Homo sapiens: one gene and its partner. The protein of the gene in region 1 interacts with the protein of each later gene in a pairwise test. Each region holds a gene or a part of one and is shown in the gene's direction. Other genes may lie near its edges.

Region 1 (4,327 bases):
ATCCTTCAGCCTCTTCCTGTCCTTTAGACCTGACTCTCTACCAGATGTTTGGAGGGAAGGGCTGGGGCTCTGAGCCAGATTCCACACCTCACGTTCAGTCACAGCCCTCAGCTATCTTCCCTCCGGCCACTGGGCTACCTCTCCTTCAGTCCCAGAAGACAAGTCTCACCAACCCAGGGAGTCAAGGACCAGCAAACCAAAGTGGATAATGGACTTTTTCATTCCTGTTTTTCTTGGCAGGAGAGAAGCAAGGCCACTAAAAGAGGAGATGGTGGAGACGGAGGCTCAGCAGTGGTCTTGAGGGGTAAAGGACTTAGATGCCCAGATGAAGAGGGAAAGCTGACATCTGCAGGGAACCCACTTTGAGGCTGAGGCCATGGCAGGACAGCTGCTGTGGGGTGCAGAGGCAGAAGATGAAGGACAAAAGGAAGGGAAAACTGATGGCCAACCTAGAGCAGCAAGGAGCAGGGCTTGGAGCTCGGGTGGTGGAGATGACAAGGACACTGTGGGGTCTGGGTCCCCAGAACTCTGGAGCTACAGGCCACTCTAGGCCCAAGGGCTAGTCCTCTTCCCCAGTCCCCTCAGAGGCCCCCGCCAGCCCCACCTTGAAAGCAGCATACAGGGGAAGGCTTGGACCAAGCTGGGCGACCAAGCACATGGGGCAGGAACACATGGTAAAGGGGTGGGGAATATGGGAGGGAGTGTGGTGTGGATGGGGGTGATGCAGGGACTGAGGGGAACCCTGGGACAGGCACAGGCTGGGCAGAGGCACAGGGCAGTGCAGGGGACTCTGCAGTGGGGTCGGGAAGTGAGTTTCTTTGCAGTGAGCAGTGCAGTGGAAGTCGGGCACAGAGGTAGCAGACAGATGTGAAGCAGTGGTGAAGGCCATGTAGCAAGTGGGGAAATACATCCAAAGGGCCTGGGAGTTGGGGGGTGCCCAACGCAATCCTTGGGGGTGCAGGGTGGAGCAGAAAGTGAAGGAGGGACACGTGCAAGAGTGGTGTGCATGGTGGTGTGACATGAGGACCGTTCCTAGGATGGGACAGTGGGTCAGGCAGGACAAGGAGAAAGCAGGGCAGAATGATGCCTAGAGGACCACATCAGGCATGGCTGACAGCTTGTGCCCATGGGCTGTGGCGTATGTCAGATCGCAGGGTAGGAACGAGTCTGGCCTGGTGCCGGCCCAGTGTTTCCTCAGCTCATCCGCCCTCTGTTGCTCCCTAGCATTCCAGGAGCCATCTTGGACTCTCCTCCCCAGGTTTGAAAGGCCATCAGATTAGCAGGGACGGGGTGTAGGGCATCACCCAAGGTTCCTTCTCTTAAACTAAGGGTGGGGGATCTGAATGTTTTTATGTTGACTGTTCTTGACTAAATTTTCAAGAGTTTCAGAAGCAACAGGACAGACCAGACGTTTCATTCTACCCTGGGGCGAACAGAACTTCTTCCTCCCAAACAATGACTTCCTGCCATGTTTGATGGGGACAGCTACCACTGTCCTCTGCCCCCATTCCCCTTTCAGCTCCCATGAGCATGCATAGTTCACCAGACCAATGGCCTAGCCATTCTCTAAGTCCCATCCTGGAAGAAGTTATTTCTTCAAGAGCTGCACCTCTCCTCCTAGCATTAGTTTAGATCAACTCAAGGAGTATTTATTAATGGCTGCTGTCTCCAGTTTCTGGGGTTAAGCACTAAGGACACAAGAATCAATCAGACCTTCTCCCTGAACTTAAGATAGCCACAATCAGAAAAAGGACAAGGACATGAGACAGTGGTGATGGCCATCAGACAGAGACTTCAAATGCTGATGGAGGGCAGAGGAAGTACTTAGGGAGGTTGGTGTCAGAGGCAGGAGTGGGGGATCAGGGAAGGTGGATTCTAGGAAAAGGGAGTGCCTGAGGTAGGCCTTAGAAGGGGATGAGTCAGATTTTTACAGAGGAGGAGGGCAGGGCTTGGGTCCAGTGGAGGAAGAAGGAAGGAGAGGCTTGGAAAGCCTTGTGTCTTGGGAACAAAAGGCCTTTGAGCATATGGGTCCAGCCACTCAGAAGTGTAGGGGCCATGCCTTGGTGTTCCAATAAGTGAATGGAAGCAGTGGTGGTAGCTACACTGGGCAGAGTTGGCAGGGTGCTGGTTCACTCTGCCCAGCCCTGAATGTGTGCCTTAAAGGCCCCCTACAAGGGGCCCCATACGACAGAGCTTTTAACTGGTGCCTTCCCTGTACCCGCAGCAGCCACAAGTGGGCCCAGACTATTGCAGCCTCCCATAAACATGTGAGCATGTTCTGAGTGTGCCATGATGTGAGTGGACCTGGCTGGAATCTTCGGAGAGCGACTGAGGTGTTCAAATCGAATCTCCCAGGAGGCTTCCTTCCAGCCCCCTATTCTGGTAACTACCAGGAGGCTTCCTTCCAGCCCCCTATTCTGGTAACTACCAAAATCCCTCGGGTGCAAGTGTAGGGGTAGAGATGGAAGGATGAGAGGTGAAATTGACCTTTTGAAAGCAAAGCTCTGGCTCACAGGCCCCAAACTACCAGCCGTATCTAGCATATCCCCACCCTCCACCCACTACCTCCTCCAACAAAGGAGTCAACTCAGTTGAAAAAACTGGTCCTTTGGCCTATCCATGGGTCAAAGTCCACCTCTCCTGGGGGCCTGGAGAGGACTGAGCCTACGGAAAGGGGATACCTTCCCACTCAGCACTGCTTCACACAGGCCCCCTGCCTGGGGCTCTCCAAGGAGCCTTCTTCACCCACTTCCAGCTCCACTTCTGCAAGGTTAAGTCAAGTGAGAACGATGAGAAATAGGGAGATGGTGTCTCCTTAAGTCCTTGATCTGCCTGTCTGTGGAATGGGAGGTTGGATTAGCTGCGCTGAGGTCCCATCCACAGCTGGTGCTCAGCTGCTTGAAGGGGAGACTCCCTCCTCTGTAACTTCTTTCTGGGGGATTGGGGTGGGCAGTACCTATCCCCAGTCCCCTCCTAGCTTGACTTTAGTGGTTTCCAATGTAGAAGTTAACAAAGTATGCCCCATTCCTGTGACAAAAGCACAACCATTCTGAAGTTACTGGAGCATGGGCTCAGCTCATCCTCCCTCTGGCCCCTTCTCCCATGGGGACATCTCGGCCCAGCACCCCTATCCCATTTCCAGAGTTCTTCCTTCCCCATCTGGGCCTTCATAAAATGCAGGGGAAGCCAGACTGGTCTCAGGAGCGCTAAAGCCCTTCCGTGGGGGGTCGTCTTTCTGGGACTAGCCCTGCTGTTTAGGACCTGGGACCACAATGGGGTACCTGCCGAGGGGGTCCCCAAGAGATCCAGGCTGTCATGTGATTTATGGTGGCATGTGTTGTGTATTTGTTGGCTACTTGTGTCTTGAAATCTAGAATTATTTCACGCAGAATTGTCACTGTTTGTCAGGAAGAGAAAATGGGCTAGTGGAAGCCCAGTCTTGAGTTCTTGTCTTGTTACCATTTAAAATTGACATTTAATTTTCAAATCACTGTTGGTGCCTAATCACTTAAGTTATTAATTTATTCTGTTGTATTCTTTTTTTTAAATTGTAACATATTTATCCGGTGGGTGGGACAGGAGTGTGTTCAAGTGGGTCATGTTTTTGCTGTGGTGACACATGGTACAGGCTTGGAGCTTGCAGGTCCCTTTCTACTGTGGTGTTGGAGCAGGACAATAAAGTCCACTAGAAATGCACCCCAGAACCAGCTGCCGTGTCCATCTTGTCTTGAGGGGCTTGGTGGTGGAACCCGTTCTCACTCCAGTCTGTTCCAATTTTTGCTTTATTTGGAAATAATTGGGTATTTTTCTTGGCTGTGAATAAGAACAAATGCTCTCTACCTCAGCGTCTGTTGTAAAGTGGAAATCATACTAGCATTTACCCATCCAGCTTTCTTAGGCGTCTAGAGATGGGTTCTGGGCGTGTCTGTCTGCTGCTTTCACAGGTCACTTAGATGTGACATCTTGAGGGTCTGTGACATTGGGCCCAAACTCCACACCACCATCACAGCAGGCAGCCCCTGGGGAAGGAGGTAGGTAAAGGCTTGAGAGCTGCCTCCCAGGTGCATCCTCTCCACGGGCAGCATCACCCAGCCCTCAGTAAGGTAAGTAAGTCAGTCAGTCCACACGTTTACTTACACCCCACTTCAGTAGATTCAGTAGAGGGCTCTTGGCTCCCTGTGGCATCTCACACGTCACTGGGGGGCAGGCTGAGTCCTGGCCTCCCCAGACCCCGTGAGCAAAACCCAGTGGCCATCACAGCCCCTGAGTCCAAGGAAGAACAATCTCTTGCTTAGGCTTACTTTTATTTATTTATGAACATGGGTGT
Region 2 (7,299 bases), about 51 Mb from region 1:
GCTTTCTGACTTTGAGCTGCTAGTCTTGTCACACTTAATACTGATGACCATCAAGCCTTTTTAAAATTAGTTTCGTAGATCTCAGTGTTCACACTGTGTGGAAACAGTTTACTTCCTGAATACAATGTTGTGTTTCCTCGCCATTTCACATCCAAGAGCAAAGCAAGTTGATCTCAGAGTGAAAACTGAATTGTAAGTGAACTTTCATTTTTACTAACAGAGCTCACTAGTTTATTTTGTACTGTGACTCTTCTAGGATGCAGTTTCAGCAGCAACAGATGAAGAAAGGCTGATAAAAATCCACGATGTCATCCAGCAGCTCCCCCCACCACACTACAGGTCAGCCACAGTGGGTAAATACCAGGCAGAGGTAGAAGTCGGTTGACCTGTAAACGTTTTTTTTTCCTTTGGATTTCTATTTAAACTTCCTTGGAGTTCTAATTAAACTTCCATTTCATATATATATATATATATATATATATACACACACACACACACACACACACACACGCACACACACACACACTATATGTATGTGTACCTATATGTATATGTATATGTTTATGTATAGATATTCATTTGTCCTTAGATCCCCAGGGCCTGGCACACTGTTTAGCATTCCATAGGTACTTAAAGGTTGAATGAATGAATGGATGGACAAAGGGATGGCTGACTAAACTTGGGGGTTTTTTGTTTGTTTGTTTTAGTTTCTTCTTTGGTTTTATTGTTGTTGCTACATTTTAAAACCTAATTTGATTTGTGTGTTAGTTTGGAGTGTTGGAAATATTTATGGTTATGTCTGAGAAAGCCAGAATAAAATTGAAAGTTACTTTGCCAGTTAGAAAAAGACAACAGTAGAAACTAGATTCCAGTATGCAAAGAAACAAAAGATACATTTTAAAATTCCAATTACTGACAAGAAATTAAACTCAGCGGATGTTCTAGTAATATGCAAATTAAGTAATTTAATTTTTTTTTTCAAAATGACATTGCTTATGTATATATTTCAAAAATCAGCACTATAGGCCAGGCGCCATGGCTTACACCTGTAATCCCAGCACTTTGGGAGGCCGAGGTGGGTGGATCACCTGAGGTGAGGAGTTTGAGACCAGCCTGGCCAACATGGCAAAACCCCGTCTCTACTAAAACTACAAAATTAGCCGGGCATGGTAGCACGCGCCTATAATCCCAGCTACTCGGGGGCTGAGGCAGGAGAATCACTTGAACTTGGGAGGTGGAGGTTGCAGTGAGCCGAGATCATGCCACTGCACCCCAGCTGGACAACAAAGCGAGACTCCATTTAAAAAAAAATTCTAATTGTGGTTTCTGTTTAATGTTTATCACCTTTGCACCATCATAAACGTCAAAAAATCATAAATTGAACCATTGTAAGTTGGAGACTATCTGTATACAATCTTTCTAAAACATAAGGTACTTGAGGTCATGAATTCTGTCTTGTTTATCACTGTATTTCCAGAATAGAGTCTTGCAGATAGATGTTCAATAATATACACTGCATATATGTTTTATATCTTCTGCACACTATTTTATAGCTTGACTATAGATACTTATATGTATATATATCCTAATATTATCCACTTTGCCTGTCTTCTAATATATATTATATTACTTACCATGTATGCCCTACCTGGATTTCATACCTTGCCTGCTATTAATATGTACATGTATATCTCCTGCTTTATAATGTATACAATATCTTGTGTAACTCTTTTCTTCACTATAACTTATATGTGTGTGTATCTCCTACTTTGTATATCTTTTGATATAGACTTTTTATCCAAAATTTTAACATTAACATTTCTGAATTCCTTAGATGTTCTTGAAAAGCGTAATTTTCCATCATGTTCTCTCATTTGGATATGCCATGTTATTTAACCTTTCATAATTTGCATATTTAATCTACATATATGGTGGTATGGGGTGTTTTCTATTTCCTTTTTTTTTTTGAGGCAGGGTCTCACTCTGTTACCCAGGCTGGAGTGCAGTGGCACAATCTTGGCTCCCTGCAGCCTCTGCCTCCCAGGCTCAAGTGATTCTCCCACCTCAGCCCCCCAAGTAGCTGAGACCACTGGCACACACCACCATGCCCAGCTAATTTTTTGTATTTTTGGTAGAGTTGGGGTTTTGCCATGTTGCCTAGGCTGGTCTCAAACTCCTGAGCTCAGGTGATCCACCCACCTCAGCATCCCAAAGTGCTGGGATTACAGGTGTGAGCCACTGTGCCCGGCCTTCCTTTTCCAATTTTGAATATTACTATGAGGGCCATCCTTTTACATGGTATCTAGATTATGTTTTTTATTACAGGATAATGACCTGGCAGTGAAATTCTGGAAATCTAAATTATTATTCTCAATATTAGACAATAATATCCAAATTACGTTCCAGGTTGCGAAGTTTTATACAATTCACACTCTCATCTGCTGAATATAAAAGTGCTCATTTTGTGGAATCCTGACTAAAATTCTACATTAACTTTTAAAGACATCCTTATAATCAGATAGGCAAACCAAATAGATGTCTTTGGTTTTTTAAATTTGCAATTCTCATAAAATACATTCCTGAAGTCCTTTAATCATTCCCTTCATTCACCTTCCTCAAGTAATAAAATTTTACATGGTTTTCTTTTTTTTTTGGCTGAGGAGCCTGGCTTTATTCTATTTTATTTATTTATTTTTTTATTATACTTTAAGTTTTAGGGTACATGTGCACAATATGCAGGTTTGTTACATATGTATACATGTGCCATGTTGGTGTGCTGCACCCATTAACTCGTCATTTACATTAGGTATATCTCCTAATGCTATCCCTCCCCCTTCCCCCCACCCCACAACAGGCCCCGGTGTGTGATGTTCCCCTTCTTGTGTCCATGTGATCTCATTGTTCAATTCCCACCTATGAGTGAGAACATGCGGTGTTTGGTTTTTTGTCCTTGCGATCTAAATACGTTTCTCAAGCTTCTCACCTCTATGTCATACCCAGGCCAGCCTCACTTCGGTTTGTCTTCTCTTAATTATATACAGCAGAGACAGAGAATTACCATTTTAACTGTAAAGCAACTACAATGCCCTTGAACGCGCAGGCACTTTGGAGCCACTCTGACCTTGATTTGAAATGCAGCACTGCCACTGCTAGTCTGTGGAACCCCAGCAACCTTGACTTTGTCCTCGGTACAAGGGGAATGGTAATTCTGTGCTTGTTAGAGCTATTATGAGAATTAAATGAGACTGCTGGTAAAAGCCTCTTGAACAATGCCTAATGCCGAGTCTAACTATGATATTCCTTTTCCTCTCAAATTCATGTTAGGCCCATCTGAATCTTTGTGGCTCGGATGTAGACCACATTTTATCTTTCATTACTGTTTCATATAATACAGCCTTATATTTCTGTCTCCCATTCATTGTCCTTTTTTTTTTTTTTTTTTTTTTTTTTAAAGACAAGGTCTCACTCTGTCACCCAGGCTGGAGTGCAGTGGCATGATCACAGCTCACTGCAGCCTCAACCTTCCTGGGCTGAAGCAATCCTCCTGCCTCAGCCTCCCGAGTAGCTGGCACTACAGGCATGCACCACCACACCCAGCTAATTGTTTTTACACTTTTTGTAGAGATGGGGTTTCACTGTGTTGCCCAGGCTGGTCTTGAACTCTCGAGTTCAAGTGATCTGCCTGCCTCAGCCTCCCAGACTGCTGAGATTACAGGCAATAGCCATCACACCCAGCCCGTTGTCTTTAGTAGTTTTACTCTGGGCACTATTAGGTAGGACGCTTTGAGACATGCTAGGTGATAGATAATACCTCTGTGTGTGCATGCGCACAGACACACACACACACACACACACACACACACACACGGCACTTACCTGGTTTAACTTACATTTAAGGTGATCATGTCTTGTTTTCAAAAGTACTCTTCCCTATTGTTTAATCACAATATATGTGGAATTGTTTAAGTAAAGCAAATTTTAAGTAGTCAAGATAAACCAGAATATGAGGATTTGAATTAGGCTCTTTATTTCAAAAGCATATCCTTTGCTCAAATATTCTCCCCTTGATGCCTATTGGAATTTTTCTTGTAACTGTTTTAAGGCTTTTGAGACATTACTGTTTTCTTTCATAGAAGTGTTGAAATCCTTTCCTGTTAGTATGTCTGCTGCAAGTAGAATGGCATAACTTCAAAATATTATTTGTTCCAGAAACTAGCTTTGGTGGAAGATTCACTTCTAATAGTAATATTTCAACCTGTTAAGCAGGAAAAAAAAGTTCTCTTGGGTTTGTATGGTCCCTTTCTTCATTTTGCTATTGCAAACTTAGGAATTAATTAGCAGGCTTTTATGTTCTATACTGCTGCATCATGTTTCTTTCTGTTAATATGTTGTATTTTATTTCCAGAACACTGGAGTTCCTGATGAGACACTTGTCTCTTCTAGCTGACTATTGTTCCATCACAAATATGCATGCAAAAAATCTAGCAATTGTTTGGGCTCCAAACCTGTTAAGGTAATTTGCATTTCACTTATTAATTTTAGTAGAACTAATCCTAAATAAAAGGCTGATTCATCAGTGTTCTTTAAGGAAACTTTTAAAAGATTAAACAAATCTGTTCTTTTTATTTGCATCTCCCTAAAACAGGCAACTGGGCCTTAGCTAAGGGACAGTAAAAGTATGATTTCTTCCTCTGTTTGTCTGAGATTTACACGTTTAAAAAAAGAGGCCCTTGACGACTGCTATCTTTACAACTCTGTGATGAAAATGTTTACCTCACAGATCAAAACAGATAGAATCTGCCTGCTTCAGTGGAACAGCAGCTTTCATGGAAGTGAGGATTCAGTCTGTGGTTGTTGAGTTCATCCTGAATCACGTTGATGTGCTGTTCAGCGGCAGAATCAGCATGGCCATGCAAGAGGGGGCAGGTACGGCTCCGATGGCCCTTCCTACCAGGAGGGTGTGTCTCAGCTTCCAGAGGAGTAGCAAACCATGCATTTCTTATTGCAACAACAAAAACGTGTCACTGGTATAAGGCAGCTAATAATGTATGGCTGCTTACCAAAATGCACAATTTGACAGTTATTTTGTGTGTATATAGTGAATACTACATATGAGACCTATTGTGATCTAAGTTCATGACACATTAAAAAACTTGTCGTTCATTATTGATGTGTATTAAAGTATAAAGTGGAACAGAAGAAGAAAAATTGCTTCCAAAACTAAAAATATCTGAGTGATTGATCACCTTTCCTCATATCTTTTAAGAAAGGAAAACAGTTATTAAAGAGTTTTATATGTGTGTATGTGTGCCACTGGTGTATCCCCTTCAGTTTTTTATTTAATATAAAGCTTTTCTCATATCTTTTAAGAAAGGAAAACAGTTATTAAAGGGTTTTATATGTATGTATGTGTGCCACTGGTATGTCCCCTTCAGTTTTTCATTTAATATAAAGCACTATGGTTTTTGCTATTTAACATACTTGAAGAAAATTTGAAACAACAGATAGGTAGATAGATGGAGAGATAGATACTAACAAATTGAATACACTCACGTAGTTGACTCTCTTCATCAGCTTCCTTTTCTTTTTGAAGCTTCTCTATCAAGGCCCAAGTCCCTCCTGGTATCCTCTCCATCCACCAAACTGCTGACATTGGAAGAGGCCCAGGCACGAACACAAGCTCAGGTCAATTCTCCAATTGTGACGGAAAATAAATATATCGAAGTAGGAGAAGGACCTGCTGCACTTCAGGGGAAATTTCATACCATAATTGAGTTCCCACTTGAAAGGTAAAATTTGTTAAATCCTATTTTGGGATATGATTTTCATAGCTATGTCCTATTATTTTCTTTTAGTTTGCTTTTAATTTTGTATTTTAGTATTACTCTATTGAATTCTAGGCTAGTCCCAGAGAAACCTGTTTATTCGAATATGGATGATACTTACCGCTTCATGGGGAATGATGCAAATGATTCTTGCTTTACAATGTCATGTAATTTTATAAAAGAAGAACATCAGTGGTATAGGGAAAATTGTTTGGAAAAATAAGGATATACTGTCACTATATGGGTTGATTTTGCTCTCTGAACTATGTTGTTTATAAAGTTGTTTAGAAATAAGCTGTGTTGGAAGAGTTTGTTCAGAAAGTCAGGAATGGACAGTGACTTGTTTGACATTGGTTTCACATTAAGGTTAGAAGAGATTAATAGTGTGGTCTCCCAGCCAACAGCATCAGCATCACCTGGTGATAATTGCTAGAAGTGCACATTGTGCAGTCGTCCAGTCACACCCCAGACCCGCTGAATCAGAAACCCTGGGCGTGGGACCCAGCAACTGGTCATTCATCTAACTTTCCAGGTGATTCTGATGTCTGCTAGGACTTGAGAACCACTGCAGCAGTTCACTCTTTCAATGTCCCTTCCAGCTCTGAAATTCTATTACTCTAAAGAAATGATAATAACATGGTTTCTGTATCTTCTTTACTAGGTTATAGTAGGAAGACTAATGTATGTAAAAGTTATTTTTGATGTCTCTGCTACTCCTTTGGCTATTACACATGAATGTAAGGATTTTGATTCTCTGGATTGGGTAGTACTAATATAACTTTAGAATTTGTTCTTCCCGTATTTTAGTATACTCCTCTAACTTCCTTTCACTTCCTGTGACTAAAAACATTCTATCAGCAAAAAGTTGGAACATACTCTTACTTTGTCATCCTGAGTTTGTCTTTAGCATCTTGATTTTATATTCTAGTTCCATAATTTACTCAAAGATTTATTTATGGAGTAGTAGTTAAGAGAGTAGATACTGGGATGTAGATTGGCCTGGGTTCCAATTCTGACTCCATCATTTAATAGTTTTATAATGTTAAAGAAGTTATTTGAACTTCTTAGTGTCATAATTTCCTTGGCTGCAAAATGAGAATAATAGTACTTACCTCATGTGGTTGTATCTGATTTAAAGGAGATATTACATATAAGGCAGGTAGCACAGTGCCTGGCATTCAGTATATGTTTGTTATTATTCTTAATCCTTGTCTTCTTTGTTTGCCTTTATTCTCTACTCACACCTAAAATCATTTTCTTTAACTCTGTGTTATTTTTGGACACTTAATATTTCCTATTCCCAGATACGTCTTATTTTCACTTATTTTTCAGTTTGTGAGGTTGGATCCAAATATGAAGATATATATAAAAATGATCTTTGTGAAAATATTTACTAGTACTAAAATCTGCATGTTTACTATCCATTTTCTGCTTTGGCTGCACTGTGTAGAGTGTGCTGTCTGGAAGGTGGATG

Evidence for each region.
Region 2: the proteins of GAB2 (region 1) and ARHGAP32 interact in a two-hybrid assay, tested with the Homo sapiens proteins (one study listed by BioGRID).

The regions. Positions count from the first base shown.
Region 1 is NC_000011.10:78,214,670-78,218,996, reverse strand, and holds the end of GAB2 (GRB2-associated-binding protein 2), read left to right. Parts: 3' UTR 1-3,704; downstream 3,705-4,327. UniProt on the Homo sapiens protein: Adapter protein which acts downstream of several membrane receptors including cytokine, antigen, hormone, cell matrix and growth factor receptors to regulate multiple signaling pathways.
Region 2 is NC_000011.10:128,979,043-128,986,341, reverse strand, and holds part of ARHGAP32 (rho GTPase-activating protein 32), read left to right. Parts: intron 1-256; coding exon 257-339; intron 340-4,405; coding exon 4,406-4,513; intron 4,514-4,780; coding exon 4,781-4,926; intron 4,927-5,593; coding exon 5,594-5,789; intron 5,790-6,486; coding exon of another isoform or gene 6,487-6,493; exon of another isoform or gene 6,494-7,299. UniProt on the Homo sapiens protein: GTPase-activating protein (GAP) promoting GTP hydrolysis on RHOA, CDC42 and RAC1 small GTPases. May be involved in the differentiation of neuronal cells during the formation of neurite extensions.